Homo sapiens: one gene and its partners. The protein of the gene in region 6 purifies or fractionates together with the protein of the main gene of each other region. This does not show direct contact. Each region holds a gene or a part of one and is shown on either strand. Other genes may lie near its edges.

Region 1 (4,081 bases), on a different chromosome or scaffold from region 6:
AAAATAAAATGTTTACAAGGCTTTCATGTACAGATATGCAAGAAATACAAATAATAAATTTAAGAGCGAGTATGAAGAGATATTTATTTGGTCAGTCTTTAGGGAAGTGGACATATTTACAATCTCCATCTCTTCCAGGTCTGTTTACAGAGACCTCTACCTGGGGTTTGGAGTATAAGACGAAAATAAAGTTGTCTACTCTTTTCCATTGTTCCTTTTATGTGTATCTTTACAGTAAGGCTCATCGGGTGGATGAGTGGCTATGGTCATTTAGTACTATCAAAACTGCATGATCATTCCTAACAGATTTCATTAGCTACAGTAGGGAGCTCAGGTATGAGTCCAGGACCAGCATTATCAGTAACACATGGGAGCTTGTTAGAAATGCAAATTTTTAAGCTAAACTCCAGATCTACTGAAACTTCGTGAGTGTGGACCTAGTTACCTGTGTATTACGAAGCCTTCCAGGTGATTTTAATGCACATTAAAGAGCAAAGAACAAAAAATTTTAACAGGTACTAAGTACTTTTTTGATAAAATACCTACCTTATAGTCTAAGTCATTCTTTTTGAGATGTAGCTAAAAATTTACACACCCAATTACATAAAAAGATATTTACAACAAAATTTAGTGTAACCTGTCACATAGTTGTAATTCATCATCTAGTGATCACACAGCAAAACCAGTCTAGTATAAAAATATTTTTTAAAGCTATATACTTACTTTAATGTTTCAGCAAGAAAAAAGCTCTGCTGTACATCATCATGTGTAGGAGTAGAGGAATATACATCTTTGACTCCAGAAAACCCACCATTAACTCGGCAATACTTTTCAATGGCCTATGAAAGAGATCAGACAAAATAAGCAATTCCGTAGAATTTCAAGTTTTGAAGGACAACAAAACTTTGAAGGACAATAGTCAAAAGCTCATAAAGATTTGTATGAAAATTTGATGGCTTAAGAATAATATATTATCAAAAGGAAATATTCTCATACTGGAAAAATTAACTCATACGAGAAACAGGATGTTTCCTATAGAACTTCTCTGTCTCCAAAACTCTTTAATCTTTTTAAGACATCTTATATTTTCCTAACTTAGAAATCAAATTTAGGCTATTTTTTCTAAATGAGGGGTCTGTCTGGCAAAATAAAGGTCCATTAGTTCTAACAAATCAAGATGGAGGTCAGTTTCAATTAACAATTTTTAATGCAATTTTATCACTTCCAAGGACAAACAATAACCCACAACATGCTAAAAAATATTACTTAGGAGCACTCTATAGTAATAGCGGTAAGAGATAATATTTACTAAATACATACCATATGCCAGACATTGCATTATCATAATCCTATGAGTTAGCCATTACAGGTGGTACCAACTGGCAGAAAGAGCCCACCTACTACAATAATAATTACAATATAAAGAGTTAACAATTATAAGGTATTTACTATGTGCTGAATGCTGTTCTAAGAGCTTTAAATACAGTCACATTTGAATTTCAGAACTCTATGAGGTTAACAGCCTCACTTTTCAGATGGGAAAACTGAGGCACAGAGTAATTTGCTCTACATTATTAACTACTGTGCTTTACTGCTTGACTGAGAGTTAAAATTCTTACTCTTTTTGCATCTTTGGGCATGCCTAAATAAAATATACTGAATCAAATGGAATCTATTCACAACCTTATTTTTTAATTCAAAGCAACCAAACAGTCTGCTTATGCAGGTACAGCACAGTCCAGAATTCAACCAATCATGAAAAGTGGAAAGCACATGTGGTAGTTTTGTTTTTCTATTCTACCTAACCCTGCAAGGTCATCCAATGAAGGCATGGTTACTTAACTAACCATCGCTGTCTGCCATGGCTTGTTGTTCCTAGTCTTGCTACTTTTCTTACTCTTCTGGGCTTCTCCTTCCTATGAAAAGCTAATTAACATTAAAAAGGTGTTTATTTAATCAATCTGCTCATTTTATAGCTCCATTTTGATTATAACTAAATTTAAGGGGTTTGGTGCTTTTCTCTAATATATTCTAAAGAAATTTTGGATACAAGAGTTTTTAAGTACTTTTCTTCACAATAATCATGTGTCTTCACCACCACATGAACTATCAAAATGGTTTAAGAATAATAAGAAAGTAGTGGGGAGGCATGACTAATCTTTAAGACATTTAAAGTCATGAGGGCAAGTTTGGAAGTTTGAATATGTAAACAGAATAGCTAAGGCTACAGAAGACACGCTATACTGCTATTCTGCCTCACCCAGCCTTCCCTTTGCTTTCTTCGCACCCAAGAGGAGAGGCCAATGGTGATGCATGAGCAAATACTATTTAAGATATGACACCGCCTCTTTTGCCTCCATTCCTCCCTCTTCTCATCACTTCCACTGCACACTTCTGAAACTTGAATTTAGAGTATAACTACTCTAGTTCTTGTTCTTGACCGATTATACATTGAGTTTGTGTTTGTGCATATAGGCTACAAAAGCAAAATTCTACCTCCTATAATTCAAATTTAGACAGACATGGGCTAAAGTTTGACCCTGTCACACCTCTCCTTAACAGACAAAAGTAGGGCCATACTTGAAGAAAGCACACAGGAAAAAAGGACATTAGGAAAAGGATGAATTATCCTAAAGTATTCCTCAATGACAAAAAGTGCTTCTGCCACCACTTTCCACTCCTCACGTGATTCAGACATATCCCCCTCATTCCTGTAAATAAGGAGCATTAAATATCAGGGGACATTCAAGTGAAACAGATTCATTATATGATTATTTTACCTATTTCCCTTACATGAAAGAGTGCTTAATTTACGGAAGCATTAGTAAGCCACTGCTAACAATAGAAGTGTGTGTGTATTCTATTCCCAAACCACTGTGGCAATAGTTTGGCTGTCTTCTCAACTGTGGCAGCACCCTCCTACACAGAGAATTTCACTAGTAGCTGTGCTCCCAATTCTGGAGCCAAGGGGCCAAGGAAAAGCAGCATCAATAAATGCTGCATCTGTTCCTGTCCTGTGTAACCACTTGTTTCCATTAATATGCTCTTATTGTTAAAGTCCAGCAGGACTATCTAGGTCTGAATGACAGGTGAAAAATAAGTGTACTCCCCTTAGTTCAAGATCTCACATTATTCCTAGGTTATGGCTGTGGTCTCCCAAACCCACCAATTTGTGGATTACAATCAGATCCTTTTGCTTTGTTACTCCCCACTGAAAAAAGCCTTCAGGAGTTCCTTCCCCCTTATAAAACATTTAGCAGTTCTGTAAGGAATTCTCAAAAGTCAAGGAGCTTTTGCAGGTAGAAGATGCTAAGGAAAAAAGAAAAGTAAGATCTGAAGGGCTTTTTGGATAAGCAAAGAACTTTCTGTTACCATTTCCCATATGACAGCACTTAACGCAGTAGCTGACAGAAGTAACTAAGAGAGTGTGTATTACGGGGAGGGAGTTGTGCACACGTCTTATTTCCTGAACAACTAAGAACCTTTGATTTGGTGTGTAAGGCTGTCTACATAATGGCTCCAATCTTCTCTCCCACTTTGCCACTGTGAAACGTTCGCTTTACATAAACTGGTATACATCTTGCCTTAAAATATATCTCATACATTCCTGTCTGGGCAATTTACCAGCACTACTGACCTCATTTGGGATGTCCTTAGTCATTCTATCTAGATTGTAAGCTTAAGTTAAACAATTTGAATACGAATAGTCACCATAATTAGTGCTATTTATCACAATTAGTAAATCTCAAAGAATAAAACAACCCCTTACCCTGGGAATAAGCTATACTTTCATAAAAGACTAATAGTTTTTTCCTCCCTAGGTACTGATAGCTATGGATTCCCTGAAAGACTTTAAGAGTAAACCACTTGCTTCCTTTACTTAACTAACCATTAAAAATTCCTCCTTTGAAATATATATATTTATATATTTTTAATATATTTTAATATATATTTAATATATATCGTAAGATTTATTTCTACTGCCCAGAAACTTAAATTGACTAAGAGTTTCTTCATCAGATAAATAAAAACTGCCCTACAGATACTAAAAATGAGGTAACATGGGTGAGGGTATGTGGCA
Region 2 (4,081 bases), on a different chromosome or scaffold from region 6:
AGGAAGAGAGAAAGGAAAGGAAAAAAGCAAGTAATTCTCCTTAATTAGAGCTAACTGGAAGATATAACAGAAAAAGAATATTATAGCTTAGGACTAAAATAAAATCATACAAAAGGGAAGTTAGAATCTTCAATTTGCTACTTGAGAAACTCTTCACTCTGTAAGAATCGGACTTTTTAAAATACATCACACATGGCCGGGCGCAGTGGCTCATGCCTATAACCCCAGCACTTTGGGAGGCCAAGGGGGGGCGGATCAAAAGGTCAGGAGATCAAGACCATCCTGGCTAACATGGTGAAACCCCGTCTCTACTAAAAATACAAAAAAATTATCCGGGCGTAGTGGCGGGCGCCTGTAGTCCCAGCTACTCAAGAGGCTGAGGCAGGAGAATGGCGTGAACCCGGGAGGCGGAGCTTGCAGTGAGCCAAGATCCGGCCACTGCACTCCAGCCTGGGCGACAGAGAGAGACTCTGTCTCAAAGAAAAAGAAAATACATCACACTTGAAGAGCCATGAATGCAGACCTGGATCTGAGGCTGTAAATCATGGGCAGAGCAATGAGGACTAATCATTTCCAGCAAGTCATTTTACAGACAGAGCCCTGATATTCCAGTAATTTTGCTCAAGATAAAAAATAAAATTGGTCATATATAAAAAATAAAGTTGATTATTAATGCGTTCCTATTATTACTTGTTGGGGATTAATAGGCACAATCTCTTCAGCTGCAGAACAAAGGACGCACATGTTTTAGCACAAGTAAAAGGCTGCGATGGAGAGCCCCAGTATCACAGACTCAGAGCAGGACCAGCTGTCTGGCACACACCGCAACCTGAACATACAACATAAGTCAAGGCCATAAGCTGACCCAGAACCCCAAGGATCCCCGAGAGGGTCAACCATGATTAAAGAAACGGAAGAAGCAACTGCTGCAGGAAGAACTGAAAGGACTAGCATGGCAAGCCACGTGCAGCGATGATTCTTCAACACCCAGAGCCTACGGACTCAAGTCTCTCTGAGGTTCTCTCATGATATGCTTTTGGGAAAACGAAGTATTCAGCTATGGGTACACTTTTATAGAATGTGCTACTTCAAAAAGCCAGAAACTTTTCTTACCATCAGGACTTACTCAAAAGAGACAGAAGTAACTTTACCAAAGGTTCTTACACTGCGGTGGTTCCAGACTCAGGGGGAATTGGGGTCCTCTGAAAATCTCTCCCTGTCCCCACCTGCCCTTCACACGGCCTTAGGAGCTATTTTCTAAATGGAGTATGGTTTCATTTCTCCGCTTAGAAACCTCAGACACCTTCCCACAAGCACTAGGCCAAAGCCCACATGCCTCAGGACAGCTAAGCACCTGCGCAGTTAGGCCTGGAAACTGCCAGCTCGTTCCCCAACTCCCTGCCACCCGGTGTACGCTTCAGCTCAGACACCCATGAATCTACGACCATCTTCTGTTCATGAAACTTCTCTTTGATTCCTTCTGAAAAACTCATACTTAACCTGAAAAGCTCAACCTAGATGACAACACAATCCCTGATAAGACCTGTCAGTGTTCTGGCATTCTGTACACGTGTCTCCTTGGCATGTTTGACTTTTCCAGCCTGAGTTGTTTCATGGACCCGTATCTTTACTTTCCGTGTATACAGGCACTTGTTTTCTCAAGTTCTCTCTGCTCTGCACCTACCCTCCTTTTCTGCCTGTCAGCGGTGACATCCCTGCACATCAGGGTGCCTGGCTCCCAGCCATCCGACCCTGAGGACCACTCAGTCTTTCCCTTAGTCCACAGCGAAACCCTGGACATGAACTCTTCTCAAAGTTACTAACTCAATTTCTGCTTTCTGACCATAACCTTCTATGTATGCTACCCTTCAATCTCTCCAATTCCAACTAACCTGCATTGCTACCTCATGCAAACCTCTAGGCCATGAACCCATCTTCACTTCTCAACTAGACTTCAGCTTCAAGGACATGCTCATCCGTGTATTGCTGACTCTCGTGCATCCAATGCCACCAAACTCATGCTAATTCCCACCCAGAATGCACTTGATCTTTCAAGCATCTATAGCAGCACACAAAGAGACAATGTCTAGATCCAGTACAGACTTATGAATTCCAACCATAGGCCTTAACAAAGGCCAAAATCCATAAAAATTAATCCTGTCGACCAACTCTAATGCTGGTGAGAAGTGAGTAAAATAAGGCTGGTAAAACAGCAGGCCTTCTCCTTGGCCTTGCTGTCAGAAGCCTATTAAACACCTCTTCCTCCTCAGTTAATCCCCCTTGCATTGTACTCTGTGTAGGGGACGCCAGGTACACTACAGCACTTATCGCCCTCTGCGTCTTGCTAAGAGCTGCATGACAAGAGGGGAGACGGGCTGTGCAAGGATTGTGCTCACAGCAATCCAAAGTTCTTTATGCATAAGCTCTGTTCTCAGCTACATTTAAAATCCCCCACATAACTTGAAGGTCTGTTTTAGTATGTCAGACTGCACACATATCTGGCTTCCTATTAGATGAGGATTTTAATCCTTCAAATTATCTAGCATAGTGTCTACAACATAAATTCCTAGTAAAGAAATGACGTACCAAGGGTGGGTCAAGATAGCTGTGCGTTGCTGACCACGTCTGGGGAGTGATCAGGCTGTACAGGGGGAACTGCTGCTGGGGGCTGTACATGGGAGGGAAGTAGAACGACGTCGCGTAGCGCTGCTGGGCATACAGGCTCACGTCCAGGGGTCTAAATCCATTCTTTGGCAAAAATGTGTTTATAGCTATTGCCTTTGCTTTTATCCGTGCCTGTTTGAAAATATGTAAGTTTCTATTAGAATACTTAAGAACATCAATTTGCAAATAAACAAAGTATAACCAATGGTCTTGCTTACCTTAATTGGTTTTCCTTGAAAAGTTTTGACTTCTTCTCGAAGGTATTTGTAAGCCTAAGGGCAAAATTAAGTACAAAATTCCATTCGATTAACCTTATGAATAAGAGGCACCAATAGTTCACTCAATAGCTCAAATAGGGAAATATATAATTAAATTATGGTGAACAGAACCTAGAATAATGATTCTTGACACTCCCTGGGTCACAGATCCCTTAAAATAACCTCATAAGAGCTATGGAACGTGTACCCCAAATTCTCACAAACAAGATTTGTACACAATTTTGTAAGTATTAACAGATGCCATAGAAGTCTCCCAAAGACCACTGGCTAAGAACCTTGACCTGGTGGAAAATGATGAATACTGAGTTCCTAGTATTCATCCCAATTTCAGATTAGGAGAATGCAGTTCAGGAAATACCAGACAGGAAGGAAAAGGATTAGGATCATAACATCCAAAAGTCATTCTTGATATATCTCCTTGTTCTTCTCCATGTTAATTCTACATTAAACCCCTATAAAACTGTGAAGGCCCTGCACCTGATTCAATATCATCCGACCACATTCGCCACACGGGCTGGCAGAGCTCACACTCCACTCCACAAAAATGGTTACTCTATCTTCCGTTCCCCTTTTCCCCCTCCATCCAATTAAAACCCATCTTTCAGGTTTCTGTGTTTTCTTTTCTGAACCCCACATACTGTTTATACCATTTAACACTTTATAATATGTGCGTTAGTTTCCTCACAAATAAGATGCTTCCCTTAAAAGCAGGAAAACTACTAACTCCTCACGCCTCCTTACAGAGCTTACTTCTCAATACCATTAAAAGCATCTTCCAAAATACAATGAAGTCTGCTGGGAGATGAAGATTAGGTTCAAATTTCCCCCCAAACACTTTGCAAATAGTAAAACTTCTCTGCCCAGATAGAAGAACAAAACTGATTTTCCTAGGTTGCTTAGCTTGTTGTCCTTAGAAAGTAAAATCACATGCTTTTTATATTGCTATAAAAATTGTCCATACAAATACACTCAAATATTTAAGTTTCTACAACTTGATTTCCTCTGCAGATTATATTCAAACTTACCATCACAAGTAATCTCAATGCCCAAGTTTAGTCCCAACATGCACTAATAGTAAAAACTGGTAAACTATGCAATTCATAGGGTGATGGTGGAAAGAACTTACCTGTTGTGCATCA
Region 3 (4,037 bases), on a different chromosome or scaffold from region 6:
GTTCAAGACCAGCCTGGCCAACATGGTGAAACTCTGTCTCTACTAAAAATACAAATTAGCTGGGCGTGGTGGCCTACGCCTGTAATCCAGCTACATGGGAGGCTGAGGCAGGAGAATCGCTTGAACCCAGGAGGCAGAGGTTGCAGTGAGCAGAGATCACACCACTGCACTGCATCCTGGGCAACAAGAGTAAAACTCCATCTCAAAAAAAACAGAAACAAAAACAAAAAAAATCCTACTATATACCATTCTCTTTTCTCTGTTTCAGGCTGTATTCTCTGTCTGGTCCTTTCCTCATATCCATAAATTTGCCAGTTCCCCACGTCTATTTCCTTTATATTTATCAGGTCAACCAACTGCTAATCCTTTCACATGACTGGTAAAGCCACCTTTGACAGTACCAGCTATCTTCCTGTATCTATCTTCCTGTAAGATAACTTTGATCATGTCACTTCTTTGCTCATTAAGTTTAAACTCTTTAAGTGGCACTCAAGTTCCTTCACAAAGGATTCTGACCTGACTTCTGGACTTCTGAATTACTCCTATCCAGTAGGATTCCTAAACTCCAAGCTAATAGTCCTTCTCTACTGTCCTTTGAATAAGTAGAGGAGGCCCAGCTGTTTCTATCTCATTCCTTATTCATCTAACACTATTTGGATGAAGATGTTGTCTTAGTAGTTTAAGATTGGGAGGATGAAGGATATAGATGAAATATTTAGTATTAATATCCAATATATGCTATGTGCTAAAGGAGTGGTAGAGGCTATTCATTGATGTATATTTTCCTTTTCTCTCTAACTGGTTACATATTAAAGAATAAAATGTTTATTTTACTTTTATTTTTTAAATACAGTGTCACACTATATTGCCCAGGCTGGTCTCAAGGGGTCCTCTTGCCTCGGCCTTTGCAAAGTGCTCGGCTGAGCCATGCATCTGGCCAAGAATAAAATTTTTAGCACTTGTATTTGTTGAGCTATGTTTTCTCAGGACATCAAATTTAGTTGTAATAATCTTTAACTTTTCAAAGAACAAACATACCTCTCTCACTATTGTTTGTATTTGTGTAAATTTTCAGGCTTTTTTTTTTCCATTACTGATTTGTGGCTTAACAGAAATAATTTTCCACAGCAGTTCCATTTATTCCACAACTCCTAGGACATTGTTACAGTTAAAAGAGCAAGAACTTTGCAATGACAAAGGCCAAGAGTAGCATTCTGAATTCTACCCCCACCCCCATCCTTTCAGCAGTGTGACTTCAGGTAAATTGTGACCTCTCCAAATTTCTTTCTCCTAACTCTAACATGGGGATAATAATACCTACTTCATAGGGTTATTGCAAAAATTAAATGAGTAGGTGGAAACAACTTCACAGTCCTTCATACATACTAAGAACTCGACAAATAGAAATTATCAATACAATTATTACTATTCAAAAGCAAGAGCACTACTGTCTAGATTATCTGGTAACTCTGATTTTGAAAACCTGAGCACAAGATAATGAAACTGCACTGTAGCAGTTACCTAAATTCTGGTAGTACAAACTAAATGAGCACTGTCTACACTTTAATATGTCCCTTATTTTACTTGACCCCTCTAGAAAGCAAATTATTATATGTATGATTATTCATCATGACAGAGGCATAGAAATATGTAAAATAATTGAAATTATATAATGTCTGGGATTTGCTTCAAAATAACCCAGGATAGCCGGGTGCGATGACTCCCGCCTGTAATCCCAACACTTTGGGAGGCCAAGGAGGGAGGATCGCTTAAGCCAAGGAGTTCAAAGATAGCCTGAGCAACATAAGGAGACCCCATCTCTACAAAGGGGGGGGGGGGGGAAAGCCGGGCGTGATGGCGCCTGCCTGTAGTCCCAGCTAGTGGGGAGGCTGAGGCGTGAGGATCGCTGGGGCCCAGGAGGTGGAGGCTGCAGTGGGTAGAGATCCCGCCACTGCACTCCAGCCTGGGTGACAGAGACCCTGTCTCAAAAACGCAAAATAACCCGGATTAGGGGAGCAAGACTGCCCACGTATTGATAATTACTGAAACTGGGTAATGAGTACAGTGAATTCCTTATATCCTTCGTTCAATTTCTCCACAGTTTGAAGATTTCCATAATAAAATGCTGCTGTTGTTAATGCCCAAAGGCCGGCTTTGGGGTTTCCTGCAAACCCTGGTCATGGTCAGAAGATACACTGGGAAGTTCTAGGAGGCGAAAAGCGACACAGCAACCACAGGAAGCTGGTTAAACTTCCCGGCGGATCAGCCAGCGCACTGCTCCTCCCGGAGGCCGGCTGGCGGTGCACCCGCGCAGTCCGGCTCCTGAGCCCGTTAAGGGCGCAGCACCCAAGGGAGCCGCCGCGAAGGGCGGTCTCCCCAGGACCGCCGCCTGGCGGCCGGCGCGGGAACCGGGGGTCCGAAAGATGGACCGAAGGTCGGGGGAGGGGGCAGGAGGTGTAGGGGTAGATTGGCGGGTGGGCGAGTCTCAGCCTTCAGGGCAAGTCAGCCGACTTCCCTCAGCTCCTCCGGAGCCCCCGACCCACGCGCCCTCAGCCGAGGCAGTCTCTGCCTCCCGGCCGCGGGGCAAACACTCAACCGGCCCAGGATCCCGCCGGCCTCCCTGCGTTCCCGAACCGAGCTCCTTCAGCTCCTGTTCTGACTGTTTCCAGGGCATCCCATCGCCGTCAGGCCTGCAGCCGACTTCATCACCCGCTAGCCAACCGCTTTTCCGAGTTCCCACCCTACTCACCTCGGCCGCGCGGCAGCCAGCACCCTCTCCGGCTCCTCAGGCTTCTAGCTTGGCTGTCCCGTGGCGTTGCTGCCAATCAGCCAATCCCCGCCCCAAGCCTGAGCCAGGCTGATCAATCAGCTGTTTCCTCAGGCTCGGAGGCGGGCACAAGAAGCTCGGCAGAGGACGCGGCAACCGCTCCGCAAGCCGGCTGCTGAGAGTCACAGTCGGTGTGCGCACGCGCGGAGCTCTGAGAGGGGCGTGTGCTTTTGTGCGGACCTTGCTTTGTGCCTTCACCGTCCTGTCCTGGGAAGTGCTTTTGTCAGCTTCATGCTTTAGGGGTTTAGGGACACCCACATTCTGAATGTAGCCGCAGATGTGTATTACCTTGAAAAAGGCTGCGAGTCGTAAGCTTTTGTTAACCTAACATGTGGAGCCCATTTCACCCCACGCTGTAGGGACCTGTGTCCACCCGGCAGATCTAATGCCTATGCGGACCTCACATCCGAGATGTTTCTCTTTAGGCAGAGCAGGAGTGCGGGGATTACAAAGTGCCTCATGGATAAGTATTTTACTTTACCATGTTCGGTTCCAGCGTCTGTTCAGTCCGATTCATTTGGGGCACGTGCTTTCTAAAGATTTGAATACTCTAGGACACTCTGGATTTCAAATAATTGTCGTGAAAATATGATTATTACATTTCTAGCTAACTTATGCAGTGTAGTAATGTGCGTAGGCGTGATGAAAGATTCCTATGTAGGGTAGGAAACCTGTCCGTATTTTTGTATGGCTTTTGAAGAGGCTGTTGCTGATTGGCTGTCTCTCTTACCCTCCCATTGCAATTGATCCCGGAGGTCGCTGGGCTGTCACTGGATCTCTGATGTTCTTGCCCCGGGTGGCACAAGTCTCTTCCTAGTGAGGGCTTTCCTCCTTCACCCAGAGCATTAACTCATTTACTCAACAACGGCTTGTTGGGGGACAACTATGACAGCAGAAAGGTTGTTAAAAGCCTTGAGCCACGCCCTAAGTGAGCCTACAAGATAACGAGGAGATAACACAAACTAAACAAAAACACAAACTTAATCAAATATTATAATGGAATCGAGGTGGGAGCCTGGGCGCCTCCATAATGTCTCAGGGAATACTTCCTGAGAAGTGAGTGCTTGTCTGAGGCTGAATGAAAGAGCAGGAGCTTTGGAGCCGAAAGGGTGGGAGCAATGGACGGTGGCGATTCTGTCAAAGGGCACTAATTTCTTCCTCTGAGATCTTTCCGGAGGGTATTTACTGCTAAGCTAATGAAGCTTGTGTT
Region 4 (4,081 bases), on a different chromosome or scaffold from region 6:
TTTATTTTTAAATTTTAGATTCAGAGGTGCACGTGCGGTTTTTTTCATCTTTTTGTAGAGATGAGCTCTTGCCGTGTTGGCCAGGCTGGTCTCGAACTCCTGAGCTCAAGTGATCCTCCCACTTCAGCCTCCCAAAGTGCTGGGATTACAGGCGTGAGCCACCACGCCCAGCCAGTATTTTCTTTTCTAATTTGGAAACAGTTTTGAATGCAACTGACAAAGAACAATTTTGGGTATTTTTCCAAGTCTCAGGAAAAAAAAGGTGAGTCCCTACCAGGCACAGAGATTGTGTAAGAACGATCTTAGCATCCTCAGATGCAGAGCACGACCACCCTGGTGCACACATCCAACAGGAGGCGGGGGCACTCGGAGCTGCAGGCGGGAGCGGGAGGGCCGGGGAGGCAAACGAGGAAGAGCTACCGCGGCGAGTTCACGGCCCGTGGAGCAGCGCGGGCCGTGTGTCCCAAGGCACTATGGCTGCTGAGCGGACGTCTCCTTAGGGTTCTGCAGTGGATCTTGCCCCGCGCTGAAGCCCCACTGGGCCACACTGTCCATCCCAGGAAAAGTGGCTGATCCGCAGGCTCAAAGAGAACCACAGAAATGCTGGTCTCAGAGGGGCTGGGGCTAAGGCCCCCATGTCACACACACAGCACCCATGCGGCTAGACATCTAGATTCTGCAACAAAATCCAGACGTATTTAAGAAGCCAGGCTACAAAACAGGCCACGGAAAAGCACACTTTGAAGGTTTCACATGAAAGCGTGTGCCCGGGCCAAGTGGAAGAGCTGCGTCCCACAGTCTTCAATGCGATGCTCCTTAAAATGCTGCTTCTCCCCAGGCAAGAGTGACTATTGGGTACTTTTAACAACACGCTTCAGTGAACCACAGCTCAGCTGGTCGGCGCTGGTACCTGCTGAGCACCTGGGGGAGCAGGTGTGTAGCCTGAGTGGGGCCAGGCACGGCACGCCAGCTGTCGGGACGGCTCACCTGACTGTGCGACGATGACACTGAACTGCAGGAGCTCCGGCGAGTGTGCGGTCCAGTCAAGGTGCGACGCGGTCACCCGCTCCAGGAGGGGACCAATGTGCTTGCGGTAGAGGTCCTGGCAGCTGCTGACACCCTCCACCATGGCCAGTGAGTCCATCGTCTCCTGTGCCTGGAGGTTACAAGTCAGAGACTGAGACAATTCCAACACTCAGGGCTCAAGCCTGCCTGCCTGCTGGGACTCACTATCCCCCTCACGCGTAAGAACCACACAGGCCGGGCCTGCCAGGATAATCGGGAGGGAGGCTGCCACAGGGAGCCCCGCCCAGGGTGCAGGAGAGCGAGAGCCGCGGGTGCAGGGCGAGACCCTGATCCCGTTCACACCAACGCCGTCTCTGCAGCGAATCATGAAGCAGGCACTGTGCACACTGGGATGCACACAGCACAGGTGGTCCTGGGGCTTACACGGACGTGGTGTCCGCCTGGGCAGGCAGGGCTCCTCTGAGGTGGTGAGGAGCAGAGAGGGGCGGGCAAGTGGCTTAAAGAGTTAAGCCCAGCAGACCAGACCTCCAGGTAAAAGTAACTGGGCAGACAGAGATGATAACCTTGGCCACCTTTTACTTTTAGCTGGCTGCTCTCCTTGGGGGCTTAGGAACAGAGGAAGGGCTGAGGCTCCCCGGTGGCCATTGCCCCAAGCCTGGAGTCTGAATCTGGGGCTACCTGGCTTCGTCCCCCATGACCAGCAGGCAAAGACTTTGCTTTTGCTGGTACCTCAGGCCCTAACAGTGACAGCATCTGCTGAGACACACGCCCCTTGGGAAGCTTGTTTTTAGAGGCCCCAAGAAGGAAGGGGAGGGCAGCAGCCTCCTCCACACCAGGTTCCCCATAGTACATTCAGGCCGTAAATCTCCCAGAGAGAGAATCTGCCGAGAGGGGCTGTCCACAGAGACAGAATGGGAGGAGGAACTAAGTCTCAGCTTCCAGAGAGGCAGACAGATACTGGGGCCTCCAGGGGCCCTAGAAGCCCATTAGAAGGTTGGGGTTAAAAGATTTTTGGGCATAATGGCCAGGTGCGGTGGCTCATGCCTATGATCCCAGCCCTTTGGGAGGCTGAGGCAGGTGGATCACCTGCAGTCAGGAGCTTGAGACCAACCTGGCCAACGTGGCAAAACCTTGTCTCTACTAAAAATATAAAAATTAGCCGGGTATGGTGGTGGGCGCCTGTAATCCCGGCTACTCAGGAGGCTGAGGCAGGAGAATCACTTGAACCTGGGAGGCAGAAGTTGCAGTGAGCCGAGATCGCGCCACTGCACTCCAGCCTGGGTGACAGAGCGAGACTCCACTGAAGAAAAAAGATGATTTTTGGGCATAAACAGGGAGCCCATGGGCGAGAAGTACTTCTGAACGCTGTGCTGCAATGAGAGCGGGAAATCACGGTATCTTCTCTCGACTCAGTCACACATGCACATGCACTTTTTTTTTTTTTTGGACGGAGTCTCGCTCTGTTGCTCAGCCCAGGCTGGAGTGCAGTGGCACGATCTTGGCTCACTGCAACCTCTGCTTCCCTGGTTCAAGCAATTTTCCTGCCTCAGCCTCCTGAGTAGCTGGGACTACAGGCACATGCCAACACGCCTGGCTAATTTTTTGTATTTTTAGTAGAGACGGGGTTTCACCATGTTGGTCAGGCTGGTCTCAAACTCCTGACCTCAGGTGATCCGCCCACCTCGGCCTCCCAAAGTGCTGGGATTACAGGCGTGAGATGCCACGCCCAGCGACATGTGCACTATTAAACCCTACTCAAGTGCGCAGGTTTAAAGGTTACGTCTTATTTCTTGTTTGCTTCTTTGCTGAAGACCCTAACATTAAACAGCTGTCTCCACTCCCTGATGCCAGAATACACTGGCAGCTGGAGAGCTGCCCCGAAGGCCGTTGCCCGGGGACTCACCCGCAAGGTTCTCAATCCCTGGTCTTTGCTGGTCAAGCACAGAGGGGATGCATAGGAGACAGTTCACCTCACTTAGAGATGCCTTCCAGCTGTGAGCTCCGCTAGGTCAAGCAGCAGCCACCACTGTCAGCCTTACCTTGTCCCTCAGGCCGGTAGCACCTGCGAGGGCCACTATTGTCAGCAGCACGTCCAAGAGCTGCAGGCTGGCCACGCCACAGTCCTCATGACACACAGACACCAGAGCCTGCACACACAGCAGCAGGCGCTCCAGGTAGAGGTCCTGGAAGAGACCGGCAGCACCGTCAGAGCTTGGTACAATTTGGTCGTGTCCCCACCCGAATCCCATCTTGAACTGTAGCTCCCATAATCCCCACGTATCCTGGGAGGGACCCTGTGGGAGGGAACTGAATCATGGGGGTGGGTCTTTCCCGTGCTGTTCTCTTGATATTAAGTCTCACGAGATCTGATGTTAGTATAAAGGGCAGTTCCCCTGCACACTCTCTCGCCTGCCGCCACGTAAGACGTGACTTTGCTCCTCCTTTGCCTTCCACCATGATGGTGAGGCCTGCACAGCCATGTGGAACTTTGAGTCCATTAAGCCTCTTTTTCTTTATAAATTACCCAGTCTGTGGTAGATCTTTATTAGCGACATGAGAATGGACTAATACAGGGCTCCCGCTCCGGCCCCAGTGTCAGGGCCGACAGAGCCCGCCCGGGGCTCCTAGTCTACGGCTCACGAGGGGCAGCAGCCATGGGAGAGCCCTTGCAGGGAGAGCCCCCAGGCGCTGGAGGTAGGGTGCCGGCATGTCAACCATAAAAGGGCGTGCTTGTTGATGGGAAAACTGAACACAGACTGGGAGCTAAGGAATCTGTGCTTATTTTGTGAAATGTGAACAGGCACTTGAGCTATGTGGTGGAGAAGCTGCGTTAGTGATGCACACGGCACCTGTGAGGGAAATGACGGCGCACTGCATTATCTGCTTTACAACATGCCCAAGTTCTCCCCGCCCTCCAAAGTTAAAAAGAAAAGTGGCCCCAGGCAGGCAGAACACGCATGCCAAGGGCTGGTCAGCGCTGAAGCTGGCAGTCGCTCTGCTGCCTGCCCCTCTTCTGTGCATTTTTGAGCTTTTCTATAACACCAAGTTTTAAGAC
Region 5 (4,081 bases), on a different chromosome or scaffold from region 6:
ACACATTTAAATCTTTCAGGGCCTCTTTATATGCATTCATCAAAGGAATTAGTAACTCTAATAATTGTAATAATTAGTAATTACCTCATCACTAATTTTGACATTTTCCTTCTTGGCAATGTCTAGTAATCGCTGCTGTTGAATTTTATCTGACAGAGGCTTGAAGCGGAATTTTGAACATCTAGAGGTCAGGGGTTCAATTATTCTGTGGAAGATGAGAAAAACCAAGTTGGTGTCTAAAGAAAGAATTTCCCCAAAAGAACTCATTTTTATCAAGAACAAATCAAGATTTGATGGAGGAAAAATTAATGTAGCCTTGAAAATCCTAAATTTCCTTTCCCTAATTGGGTTATGAAAATAAGGCTGCCTAGCATCTGTCTTCAGGGCAATATACATACCGACTGACATAGTTACAGATAAGACAGAATCGGGTGGTTTTCGACTCCTTCTCCATGGTACGTCTTAAAGCTGCCTGAGCAGCTGAGGTCATAGAATCTGCTTCATCCAGAATCACAATCTTAAAAGGCGGACACGGCTTCCCACTGATTCAGAGAAACACATAAGAGTTGAACATTAATATGTATATTGGTTTTAACAGCTTTGTTGAAAGATACACGTACCATACAATTCACCCATTTAAAATGTACAATTCAGTGTTTTTCTGTATGTTCACAAAGTTGTGCAACCATTACCACAATCTAATTTTAGAACATTTTTATCACTCCTAAAAGAAACTTTGTACCTATTAGGAGTCACTCTTCTTCCCCCAGTCATTCCCAGCTCTAGGCAATCATTAGTCTACTTTCATCTCTATAGATTTGCCTATTCTGGACATGATATGAATGGAACATATAATATGCAGTCTTTTGTGGCTGACTTCTTCCACTTAACATATTTTAAAGGTTCATCCATATTGTAGCATGTGTTTGCGTCATTCCTTTGTATTGTCAAATACTATGGCAAATAGATACACCACATTTATTCATCCATTAATCGGTTGGACATTTGGGCTGTTTCCATGTTTTGGCTATTAAGAATAATGCTGCTGTGAACATTTGTGTACATGTTTTTGAGCAGACATGTCTTCCAAGAGGCTGTACCATTTTACATTCCAACCAGCAATGTATGCGGTTTACCATTTCTCCACATCCTTGTCAATGCTAGTTATTTTCTGTATTTTTTATCATAGCCATCCTAGTGGGAGTTACGTGGTATTTCAATGTGGCTTTGATTTTCATTTCCCAAATGGATAATGATGTTGATGAGCATCTTTTAATGTGCTTATTACACATGCACGAAATGTCTATGCAGATCCTTTGCCTTTTTTTTTTTTTTGAGATAGAGTCTTGCTCTGTCGCCCAGGCTGGAGTGCAGTGGTGCGATCTTGGCTCACTGCAAGCTCTGCCTCCTGGGTTCACGCCATACTCCTGCCTCAGCCTCCCGAGTAGCTGGGACTACAGGCGCCCGCCACCACACCCAGCTAATTTTTTGTATTTTTAGTAGAGATGGGGTTTCACCATGTTCGCCAGGATGGTCTCGATCTCCTGACCTTGTGATCCACCTGCCTCGGCCTCCCAAAGTGCTGGGATTACAGGTGTGAACCACTGCGCCCGGCCTTTGCCCATTTTTTAATTGGGTTATTTGTTTTTATTACTGAGTTTTTAAAGTTCTTCATATGTTCTAGATATAAGTACCTTTTTAGGTATATGATTTGTAAATATTTTCTCCCACGTTGCGGGTTATTACCTTCTGTACATTGATTTTTGGTAATCTGCCATTAAAGTTTTTCTCCCACCAAAAGTGGCATTAACATAATTGTATGAAAATTATACCAAGAAAACAGATTTCAAGTATTAATGGTAGAAGGGATCTCAGAGTCTTTTAGTCCACCTCCCAGTCTTCATTTCACATAAAAATACATTAGGTGCTATAGCGGTTGTGACTGACTGCACCATCAATTTAAGGTGCATATCAAAAATTAGTCATTCACTTTCACAAATTTTGAAATGTGCTCATGTAAAATTTACACATATGTCTAGGTACCACCAATGTAATCCTGGACCTTTGCCACCTAAGGAGCATAAGTAGTTGATTAAATCCCTGTTTACCTCAGGCAGGATAGTCTTCTAACATGAAAAGTTGACAATTTGGCAGAAATACACTTGATCTTAGCCAAAAGGCTGAGGAGCGATGGCAGAAATACATATTTAAAATAATACATGCTATGGAGGAGGGAGGGCAAATTTACTTACTCTGAGCGACTTCCTGACACAGTTAATTGAGCAAAATTTTTCACTTTCTCTCGAACTACTTGTATTCCACGTTCATCAGATGCATTTAACTCAAGAACTCTTAATCGGAAAAGTTCAGGCCTATCTCAAAATGAAACAAATATGAAACATAGAGCACAAGTAGGCTTAAATCACATTTTAACATTTGCACACTTTGCAGACGTTTAAAATCCACCTAGTAAACAACATGGATAGAAGGCACACAATCACTTTTGCATTCTCGCTTCAGCAGAGTGCTGCAGTTAACATTTTGGCTTTTTTCCATGCATTTAAAAAAATGTAGACATTACATAACATATACAATTTCTTTTCTTTTTATTTTTTTGGAGACAAGGTCTTGCTCTGTCACTCAGGCTGGAGAACAGTGGCATGATGATGGCTCACTGCAGCCTTGAACTCCTGGGCTCAAATGATCCTCCCACCTTAGCTTCCCAACTAGCTGGGACTATAGGCACATGCCATCACACCTGGCTAATTTTGTTTACTTTTTGTAGAGGCAGGGACTCATTATGTGGCCAGGCTGGTCTCAGGTGATCCTTCCACCTTGGCCTCCCAAAATGTTGGGATTACAGGTGTGAGGCACCACACCTGGCCCCACATATAAAATTTTAAATCGATTTTCCACTTTGCATTTATAATAAGTATCTTGGCATATTATCAAAACCACTGTAAATAACATTTTAATAGTCATATGATATTCCATCCTATGACTGTACCATCATTTACTTCACATTCTTCTATTGTTAGACATCTAGATAGTTTTAAATACTGTAATTTTAAATAATGTTATAATATAGCACATTTTAAATTATTTCCGGCCGGATGTGGTGGCTCATGCCTGTAATCCCAGCACTTTGGGAGGCCGAGGCGGGTGGATCACGAGGTCAGGAGTTCGAGACCAGCCTGACCAACGTGGTGAAACCCTGTCTCTACTAAAAATACAAAAATTAGCTGGGCGTGGTTACAGGCACCTGTAGTGCCAGCTACTCAGGAGGCTGAGGCAGGAGGATTGCTTGAACCCGGGATGTGGAGGTTGCAGTGAGCCGAGATCGCACCACTGCACTCCAGCCTGGGCAATAGAGCGAGACACTGTCTCAAAAATAAATAAATAAACAAATAAATAAATAAATTCCACAGGGTAGTTTGCTATAAGGAAACCTACTGGATTAAGGAAAATTAATGGATTAAAACATGAGCAGGTTTTTAAAGTGAGTTTTAATAAAAATTACTAAAAGTAATATATGCTTACTGTAGAGAAATTTGAGAAATCAAAAGAAAAAAGTGGGCACACTGTCAAAGCACTGTTTTTGAAACTTCCCTCTAGTCTTTTACACACACACACACACACACACACACACATTTAAATAAAAAACAAGAGTTGTGATTTAGTTTCATCTCTATTTTTCCTAATCAGCATGGTATCCTAAGCATGTTTATGGACATAAACATTTACATGCATCTATTTTCTATTTTAAAGCCACAATATTAAATATGAAATTCACTGTTAAAGTAAGTTCTTTAAAGACAAACATTATTTCATAAAGGATATAGAAAAAGTTGTATAATCTGGACTGACCTACTCTAAGTAATAATAAACAACTGTTAAGGCTGATTCAGATTGGTTCTATCTGATTGAGTTGTGGAATAATCAAAAAAGTTCTTCTATAATTTTACTGAGAATAAAAAATTGCTGTCAAATAAAATATTAGGCACATAGCAGCTTCTCCCTTTGTCTTTTACATTTTGACATAACTAATAATCCTTACACATTTGGTGATTTCAGTGGCGTC
Region 6 (4,081 bases):
ATATAGAAATCTTTATAGTCTGATGCCTCCAAATAGGGAAATCTGCATCCTATATTTTGTCCATCAGCCTTGATGTAATCAACACACTGTAATGCATGATCCAAGCCCTCATACCTGTAAAATGAGTGTTGTGAGAATTGTGTTTAAATAACAATCTTTTCCAGTATCAAGGCACTTCATTTTCAATTATATTAGGATACCATGTCAGTTTAAAAATCATTTAATAATGTACAATATTTATTAAGCACCTACTATATGTCAGGCACTATGATAAGCAATAGGGAAAAAACAGTAGGGAAAGCAGACATAGTCCCCGATTTCATGGAGCTTACAATTTGTTGGGAGTCCTCGCAAAATCTCAAAGACAAGGATTCTTACTTGTGTACTTAGGTTATATTGATTCATCAACAAGGTTTGTGAATCAAAGAATAAGATTCCTAGTAAGAAAACCTGTGATTTGTACAAATAATCCTGCATGATATTGCCTTTTAAGTTATTTTACTGGGGAAGTTATTTTAAAAGAAAGCAAATTTTAAAGCAGACTTAGAAAATATTATGTTTAATAAAATGAATGAAAATCTGGAGTATACAATACACATCAAGAGATAAACCTCAGAAAAGCCAACTGTAGGAGGGCAAAAGGAAAAAGAAGGAGTTGTTTGGCAAGTAAATATTTAATTTTCTCATCTATTAAATGAGAAATGTTACCATATCATTTTAAGTTAACCTTATTCCAGTAATAAAGCTAAAAGGAACTAGGAGTGATTCCCTACTAAATTCGAAAGCAACAAATGCTTGCTATTTTCCTAAAGAATAGCTTGCAATGCAAACCATGACATTATCTGTAAAAGCAGTCAAATCCCTGTTGAAAAGAGGCCAATGTAGCAGCTGATAAGGTGCCTGTACACATATCTGGACTCTACTAAATTAACCTTATGCCAACTATTTACTTTAGGGAGAGTTTGCAAAATTGTTGTCTCTTGGTTAGTTCACTTGATTAGAGTTTGGGAGACTTCAGTTCCAGGCTTAACTCCATACAGACTTACTTGATGTCAGCAGGGAAGGCTTTATTTTCCAATCTCTAAAATGTTAATGTTTATTCCTCCCTATTTCACCAAGATGAGGATCAAATTATATCAAATATGAACCACAATGTACAGGAGGGCAGAGACTTTCTCTTATTCATGCTTTTGTCCTTTTTATCTAGAACACTGCCTGGCATTTAAAAGATGCTTAATATTTGTTGAATTAATGAACAAATAATTTAGATCTTTGAAATTTACCTATCCAATTCCAGATGAGGAAACAAAAATTCTAAAAGAAAAAATTACTTGCCCAAGGCCGCCAAGTTAAATGATGCTAGAGCAGGGATTAGAACCCAGATCTCAGGATTGTTAATAGTTTATAGCTTATGATTTATCTATTATTATTTTCTAAAGAAAGATGCCATGATAATTTGGAACTAGAACTCACCAATAGTAATGCTTAGTCCTCTCTTGATTTTTCCATTATTTAGTAAATGCATATGTTTGGATAATTACCTATCAGTTTATCAGTGCTATCACTTGTTTCAGCTATGTAATAAATATTTAGTGCTAATCTACTACGGGTATAGTACTTTGGAGGTAGGCAAGAGAAATATAATAAACAATTCATGCCCACCAATCCCTTAAAAATTTAACAGGAGACAAAGCACACATATATGAGAAAAAATTTAAATGCCATCTGGACAATAAACAATTACAGGCTATAAAAAAAAATAGTTCAAGGCCAGGCGCAGTGGCTCACGCCTGTAATCTCAGCGCTTTCGGAGGCTGAGGTGGGCAGATCACTTGAGGTAAGGAGCTTGAGACCAGCATGGGCAACATTGTGAAACCCCATCTCTACTAAAAATGCAAAAGTTAGCCAGGTGTGGTGGCACACGCCCATAATCCCAGCTGCTCGGGAGGCTGAGGCATGAGAATCGCTTGAACCCAGGAGGTGGAGGCTGCAGTGAGCCGAGATGGCACCACTGCACTCCAGCCTGTGTGACAGAGGGAGACTCTTGTCTCAAACAAACAAACAAAAAAAAAAACAAAGTAATAGCTCAAGAAAAACAAAACAGAAGCTGACATGATCAGTTAAAGGTTAATGAAACTGGGGAGCAGATGAGCCTTGAAAAAGATGGATAAAAATTGGTGAAAGAAAGATAGAGCCAGAGGGCATTCCAGAAGGTAATGCAAACAAAGGTATAAAAGGCAATAACACGGGTGAGAAAAAAATGTAGAGATGGATCTAAATTGAGTGGAGCATTCACATTGGTAATAGTAGACAGTATGGCAGCCTAGATTTTATCCTGGGGCAATGAGTAGACACAGGAGGTTTTTGAACAAGAGAGTGGTATATGAAAATGGCAATATAGGAAGATAAAGCTGGCTACAGTGTGCAGAATGAATAAAAAGGGGAGAGATTGGAAGGGGAGAGATTGGGAGCAGAGCGACCGTCATTTTGGAAGCAATGGCAATCATCCAGGTGTGGAATGAGGGAAGCCTAAAGTAGAGCTCTTACAGTAGAGATGGTAGGTACTTAACAGATGTGCAACCTTGCAAAGGAGCATCAGAACATGGTGATCATGTTACCCTAAAACAATTAAGAAATTAAGAAGATACACGAGTCACAATGTCCAAGTTTAAAAGCTTCAGTGACAGTTAACAAAGGAGGGAGTCAGAAAAAAATTCAGTTTAATAGATAACTGATTTTTTAAAAAAACAAGAATATAAAATATGTCAAAATTGTTTAAGTTCTAAATTCATCTATCTAAAGGATACAAAATTAACCCAGTACAGAAACAATTATTGCATTCCTTATATCACCCATAGAATACCTTCCAGTATCTACATCCTAAAACCACTTACACCCATTGAAAACCTCAAATAATTGTAAACAATTATCATCATAAATACAACTCTGACAAGTATAATGAATTTAACTTAGTGAAAATATAGTTTACTCATACTATCGACTAACTTGAGTAGACATTTTTTAATATGGAATTCTAATTATAAAAATACTTACCAGTAAAACAAGTTGTAATTGGTATCAAGAAGTACACCTATGCCAGGTTTCCAAGAACAGAGTAAATATTGCCAATTGTAATATACGCAATCCATATCCTGAACTTTAGTTTCTGGAATTCCTAAGGAACAAATCAACTGTGAATGTTTGAAAGGCTTGGTGATGAATCATTTGTGAAATCATTTCTCAATTTTACTTCATTTCCTATGACCTCTCCATTTTATTTTGCAATCAACATAACAGGATTATTTCAAAAGGAAGTTACTGGGAATCACTTCACGATAAGAGGGACATGCAAAACCAAAAAACATTTGAGGGCTCATTTACTCATATTAGTATAAGCATATGCAAAAGTAGTAAATTGATTATTCTAGGATGCTCTGAGCAGATGAGCAAATACTCATGAATGTTTACTAATATGACCCCAAAACTGGGAACTAAATCAATAAAATAATATACAGGTTTTGCCAAAGGTATTTGCTGATTTAAAGAATTTTAAAAGGCTAATCACCAACTACAAGAAAGATTCTATTTTGTGCCACACTGTCACAGGATCTATTGTGCCTACAGCCTGGTACATAAGATTAAGGGACTTATTCCCAAATGAATTGTTCTGATAGTATTAAATATGAAAAGAGAGCTTTGTTTTAACCTTGTGGTGATATCCAATAAGTAGTTTCTGCCCAGGAACTTTGAACTTCTGATCCATTTGTGCATTGCCATGGTAAAAGCGTGTGTATCTTCGCTTCAATGCCCTTGTTAAGATCAAACCCATCTTTGTAATGTAGATTCTTAGTAATGATGGTCTGTTTGACAAAAAGATGAGACAAAGTCAAGCTTAGAAACCTCCATGGTATAGTGAGCTATATTAATAAGACTAATAAATCATTAATACCCTGGAGAGTTCCCAATATCTAAGACAATCCTAGAGACTATTTGATACAATGCCACAGATACATTTCCAGCAGAGCTCACCTCTGTATGTCATATCATTTTATGAGATCATTTGAATCTTAACATCTAATTC
Region 7 (4,081 bases), on a different chromosome or scaffold from region 6:
TTTCGGTAAACAATGACAGTGACTTCTGTTTGGAACCATAGTTTCTTTGTTGGAACGAAGCTCAACTCATATAAGGAGTTTGGAACCCCCTGCCGGACTTACAACCTCCAACTTCTCTCTAATGAGGCTCTTGGGAGCTGTACAAAAAGGTGAGGCTGGAGTTTGACTGTTGTCTTCTGTTGCAGGTTCTGGGCATTTGGAAAAGTTTCTCTTCGGGCTGTTAAGCAAGGCTAAAGAGGAGAGGAAAAAAATGTTAAAATGTGTGTTGTCTTCCTAGTTTTCCATTTGTCTGTGTTCATTTTGGAGTTGGACATAATTGAAAGCACCAAAGCTAATAACAGCTACCATTTATTCAACAGCTTGTATTTTTTAATACCTACCCCCAACTTTCCCTTGCCCACATTGATTGTGCCTCCTCCCAAAGCCAGAAAAACTCTAAACCTCAAGTTAACCAGTTGTATTAGCCTCCTCCCACTAAAGATTTTAACCAAGCACCCAAAACAAGAGTAACTAATTTGAATCTAGTCAAGTTAAGGTTCTTTGATGTTAGCCTTTATGTGTTTAAAATATGTGCGTGTAAATCTCTGAATTACAGTTCCATCACTCAGGCTAACTGGGAAAACTTGAATGACTCGCGGATACTGGCCCTAGTTTCAGTTGCTGTAACAACAAGCCGTGTTTCCTTTTGAACAGGCTGGATCAGGTGCAACACCACCATAAGGAAGAGTGGATTCGGTGGCATCACGATGCTCTTCACAGGATACTTCGTCCTGTGTTGTAGCTGGAGTTTCAGACGTCTGAGTAAGTCTTTCTATATTTCTAGCCTAAATAACAGGTCCCATTCCGTTATGTGGACCTCCAAGGGATTCTCTGAATTTTTTTTTTTTTTTTTTTTTTTTACAGCTTTACAGTATCTGGCATGCCCTGGTGAATGAGCTATTGCCTGGGGTTTCTGGGTTTTATTTTTTTGAGATACAGTTTTGCTCTTGTTGCCCAGGCTGGAGTGCAATGGCACGATCTCAGCTCACTGCAACCTCTGCCTCCTGGGTTCAAGTGATTCTCCTGCCTCAGCCTCTCGAGTAGCTGGGATTATAGGCATGCACCACCATGCCCGGCTAATTTTGTATTTTTAGTAGAGACGGGGTTTCTCCATGTGGGTCAGGCTGGTCTCGAACTGCCGACCTCAGGTGATCCGCCCACCTCAGCCTCCCAAAGTGCTAAGATTACAGGCATAAGCCACTGCACCTGGCAGGCTCCGGGGTTTTATTAGAGGCTTGGTTGTAATGGCCTGTATAAGATTTGACTAGAATTTACATAATTGCCCTTGTCCTCCATTTCATGTTGTCTTTTTTTTTTTTTTTTCCCACCCAGGCTAGAGTGCAGTGGCATGATCTCAGCTCACTGTAACCTCTGCCTCCTAGGTTCAAGTGATTCTTCTGCCTCAGCCTCCTGAGTAGCTGGGACTACAGGTGTGTGTCACCATGCCTGGCTAACTTTGTTTTTGTATTTTTAGTAGAGACAGGGTTTTCACCATATTGGCCAGGCTAGTCTCGAACTCCTGACCTCATGATTCTCCTGCCTCGGCCTCCCAAAGTGCTGGAATTACAGGCATGAGCCACCGCACTCAGCCTTTGTAGCTTTTTTCCCTTCCCTGCTAAAAGGTCAGGTACCTAAGAACTGTTACCCTGCTCCAATGGAAGGTGCTTTTCCTTGGTGCCTAAGAGCACCTTTTTGGCATTGAAACCAAACACCTTTACACCACAAAAGAGAGAAGGAGGAATAGAATACAGCTGTCACTTACCAATGTGTCTAAGTCTTATTGCTATCTCAGTTAATCTACTTTGAACACTTAAAAAACAAAGTGCCATTCTCCAAGTTTCAGCTTGCACTAAGTCTTAACCAGAAGGAAAATACCTTAATTTCATTTATCTTAATTCAAGATGTGTTTGTTCATTTCTTATTGTATTATTAAAAAAATCCTTCTAGTTAAAAAGATGAGTGGGTATCAAAAATATCAGCATTTTTGTATAATTAAATTTTTGTGCTGGTTTTTGTACAATCAAAAACCAGTATTTTGGGGCCGGGCGCGGTGGCTCACGCCTGTAATCCCAGCACTTTGGGAGGCCGAGGCTGGCAGATCACCTGAGGTCATGAGTTCAAGACCAGCCTGCCCAACGTGGTGAAACCCTGTCTCTACTAAAAATACAAAGATTAGCTGGGCGTGGTGGCGGGCGCCTGTAGTCCCAGCTACTCGGGAGGCTGAGGCAGGAGAATTGCTAGAACCCAGGAGGCAGAGGTTGCAGTGAGCCGAGATCGCGCCACTACTCCAGCCTGGGCAACAAGTGAAACTGCATCTCAAAAAAAAAAAAAAAAAAAAAAAACCACCAGTATTTTTGTACAATTAAAACAAAAAGCCCACTTTCAGATGAAAACTTCAGGTGTAAAAGTACAAGATAACGATGAATTCTGAAGGCCAGCATAATTCACACACTGGACTTCTTAAGAAAAAAAAAAATCACAATTTGATGCTAATTGGGATTCGTTTGATGAAATCAGTGCCTAGTGAGTAGCGGGTAGGTCCGACAGCAGGAACAAGGCGGCAGCACTCCTGCATGCTGGCTGGGATGGCCTCGCCGCCATCTCTTGTATCAGACACCTGGCCATGGGTGAGGAAAAGAAGTGCCTTTCTGATCGTCCTGCATAAATGGAGAGGCCCAAAACCAAGAGTCATTTCTCCCACAGAGAAAAGGGCTTTTCTTAAAGTTTTACCAGTCTGAAAGGGATTGTTTGATACCTGACATTAATGAACAGAGACTGAAGAAAGTGAAACAAACTTCTCATTGTGCTTAATACTCTATTTCTAAACTTATAAAACAAAAAGAGAATGATCTGTAGAGGCAAAAGATAGTAACAGTCATTGGAAGTGGCCTCTCGGATCCTTACATTTGTCTCTGTTTATCCAAAGAGCTGCAGCGGTGGCGTAAGTAGTGTTGACCTGGACATCACTTAAAGCTCTGGAACAGCAAAGGGCGTACAGTGGAGACGACTGCAATACATACTTAACAGTTTAAAAATGTATAATATTTGGGACAGGGAGAGGGGAGTGAAAAAAATAAAGAATAAAATTATTGGAATCTAAAATAATGATACAGGAAGTAAACGTATTATTAATATAGACAGATCTGGTTCTGTCTGGATGTTCTTGGCTTGCTCTCAGGAGCAACTGAGAATTAGAGAAAAACTAGTTTTGTTTAACCATAAAGTTGTTATTCAAGGAGATGTGAAGATGACAAAGTTCATCACTAAAATTAAGAAGTCACTTCTCAGTAAAAAGCTAGTATCTCATTACCATTCAGCTATATGAGATACCAGACTACTACCTATATGTTGATACAGGAAAGTATCTGAATTGGCAGAAAATAAGCCCACATCAGGCCCTTCCCCTTAGTTTCTTTGGGGCCCTTGACCAGATCTTGATAAGGTGTGAGAAACACAAGAGCTAAGGATGGGCATTCGAGTTGCAGGTAAGCCTCCGAAAAAAAGCTTACAAATATTTTTAAGCTGATTTTTAAAATAGCACACTAACTATAATGTTAAATCACATTTTATACATCTTAATTGAGTATAATAATGAACCGGTGGCTAATGTATCATCTCTTCCTGGAAACTTTTCAGAATCCCACCCCTATCTATCCCTTTCTCAAGAGTTTCTGTGCATTACTGAGAAATTCCTCTCCATTTGTTAGGGTTGTTTTTGGCTGGTGGGTTTTCTGTGTCTCTTCATCTCATCAAACTATTCAGTGTCTGATTTTTTGACTTCTGCTTTGGCCCACAGAGAGTAACTTGGATACTTACAGGTAGAAAAAGCTTTGAGGAAATTTAGGCAACGTTGATGGATAAGTGTTTCCCCAACCTCCTTTCTAACGTAGAGGGTTAGTTATATATCACACGCACACACCCGTCTGTCTCAGCTTTGCTTGTGGTGTCCTCATGCCAAAATACATGAGGTCAGTTCCTCTTATGTCCCAGCTCTTTTAAAACTACAGGAATGCTGGGTGCGGTGGCTCACGCCTGTAATCCC

What was found.
Region 1: the proteins of IL13RA2 (region 6) and MAN1A2 purify together in Homo sapiens (affinity purification with mass spectrometry; 2 studies listed by BioGRID and IntAct, with this or other methods). This does not show direct contact.
Region 2: the proteins of IL13RA2 (region 6) and LARP4B purify together in Homo sapiens (affinity purification with mass spectrometry; 2 studies listed by BioGRID and IntAct, with this or other methods). This does not show direct contact.
Region 3: the proteins of IL13RA2 (region 6) and MTFR1 purify together in Homo sapiens (affinity purification with mass spectrometry; 2 studies listed by BioGRID and IntAct, with this or other methods). This does not show direct contact.
Region 4: the proteins of IL13RA2 (region 6) and DNAAF5 purify together in Homo sapiens (affinity purification with mass spectrometry; 2 studies listed by BioGRID and IntAct, with this or other methods). This does not show direct contact.
Region 5: the proteins of IL13RA2 (region 6) and RFC4 purify together in Homo sapiens (affinity purification with mass spectrometry; 2 studies listed by BioGRID and IntAct, with this or other methods). This does not show direct contact.
Region 7: the proteins of IL13RA2 (region 6) and MTNAP1 purify together in Homo sapiens (affinity purification with mass spectrometry; 2 studies listed by BioGRID and IntAct, with this or other methods). This does not show direct contact.

What each region holds. Positions count from the first base shown.
Region 1 is NC_000001.11:117,499,613-117,503,693, reverse strand, and holds part of MAN1A2 (mannosyl-oligosaccharide 1,2-alpha-mannosidase IB), read right to left. Parts: intron 840-4,081; coding exon 724-839; intron 1-723. UniProt on the Homo sapiens protein: Involved in the maturation of Asn-linked oligosaccharides. Progressively trim alpha-1,2-linked mannose residues from Man(9)GlcNAc(2) to produce Man(5)GlcNAc(2).
Region 2 is NC_000010.11:826,799-830,879, forward strand, and holds part of LARP4B (la-related protein 4B), read right to left. Parts: coding exon 4,069-4,081; intron 2,937-4,068; coding exon 2,883-2,936; intron 2,797-2,882; coding exon 2,587-2,796; intron 1-2,586. UniProt on the Homo sapiens protein: Stimulates mRNA translation.
Region 3 is NC_000008.11:65,643,497-65,647,533, reverse strand, and holds the start of MTFR1 (mitochondrial fission regulator 1 isoform 1 precursor), read right to left. Parts: upstream 2,801-4,037; 5' UTR 2,750-2,800; exon of another isoform or gene 1,039-2,749; intron 1-1,038. UniProt on the Homo sapiens protein: May play a role in mitochondrial aerobic respiration. May also regulate mitochondrial organization and fission.
Region 4 is NC_000007.14:760,881-764,961, reverse strand, and holds part of DNAAF5 (dynein axonemal assembly factor 5), read right to left. Parts: intron 3,210-4,081; coding exon 3,066-3,209; intron 1,157-3,065; coding exon 988-1,156; intron 1-987. UniProt on the Homo sapiens protein: Cytoplasmic protein involved in the delivery of the dynein machinery to the motile cilium.
Region 5 is NC_000003.12:186,792,406-186,796,486, forward strand, and holds part of RFC4 (replication factor C subunit 4), read right to left. Parts: intron 2,373-4,081; coding exon 2,253-2,372; intron 543-2,252; coding exon 399-542; intron 206-398; coding exon 85-205; intron 1-84. UniProt on the Homo sapiens protein: Subunit of the replication factor C (RFC) complex which acts during elongation of primed DNA templates by DNA polymerases delta and epsilon, and is necessary for ATP-dependent loading of proliferating cell nuclear antigen (PCNA) onto primed DNA.
Region 6 is NC_000023.11:115,010,715-115,014,795, forward strand, and holds part of IL13RA2 (interleukin-13 receptor subunit alpha-2 precursor), read right to left. Parts: intron 3,861-4,081; coding exon 3,707-3,860; intron 3,176-3,706; coding exon 3,055-3,175; intron 115-3,054; coding exon 1-114. UniProt on the Homo sapiens protein: Cell surface receptor that plays a role in the regulation of IL-13-mediated responses. Functions as a decoy receptor that inhibits IL-13- and IL-4-mediated signal transduction via the JAK-STAT pathway and thereby modulates immune responses and inflammation.
Region 7 is NC_000017.11:73,242,203-73,246,283, forward strand, and holds part of MTNAP1 (mitochondrial nucleoid-associated protein 1), read left to right. Parts: exon of another isoform or gene 1-41; coding exon 42-149; exon of another isoform or gene 150-220; coding exon of another isoform or gene 221-230; intron 231-693; coding exon 694-801; intron 802-2,965; coding exon of another isoform or gene 2,966-2,988; exon of another isoform or gene 2,989-3,144; intron 3,145-4,081. Other genes in the region: CPSF4L (putative cleavage and polyadenylation specificity factor subunit 4-like protein), read right to left, coding at 221-230. UniProt on the Homo sapiens protein: Critical regulator of mitochondrial DNA (mtDNA) abundance. Binds dsDNA throughout the mitochondrial genome without sequence specificity and controls mtDNA copy number by promoting its replication.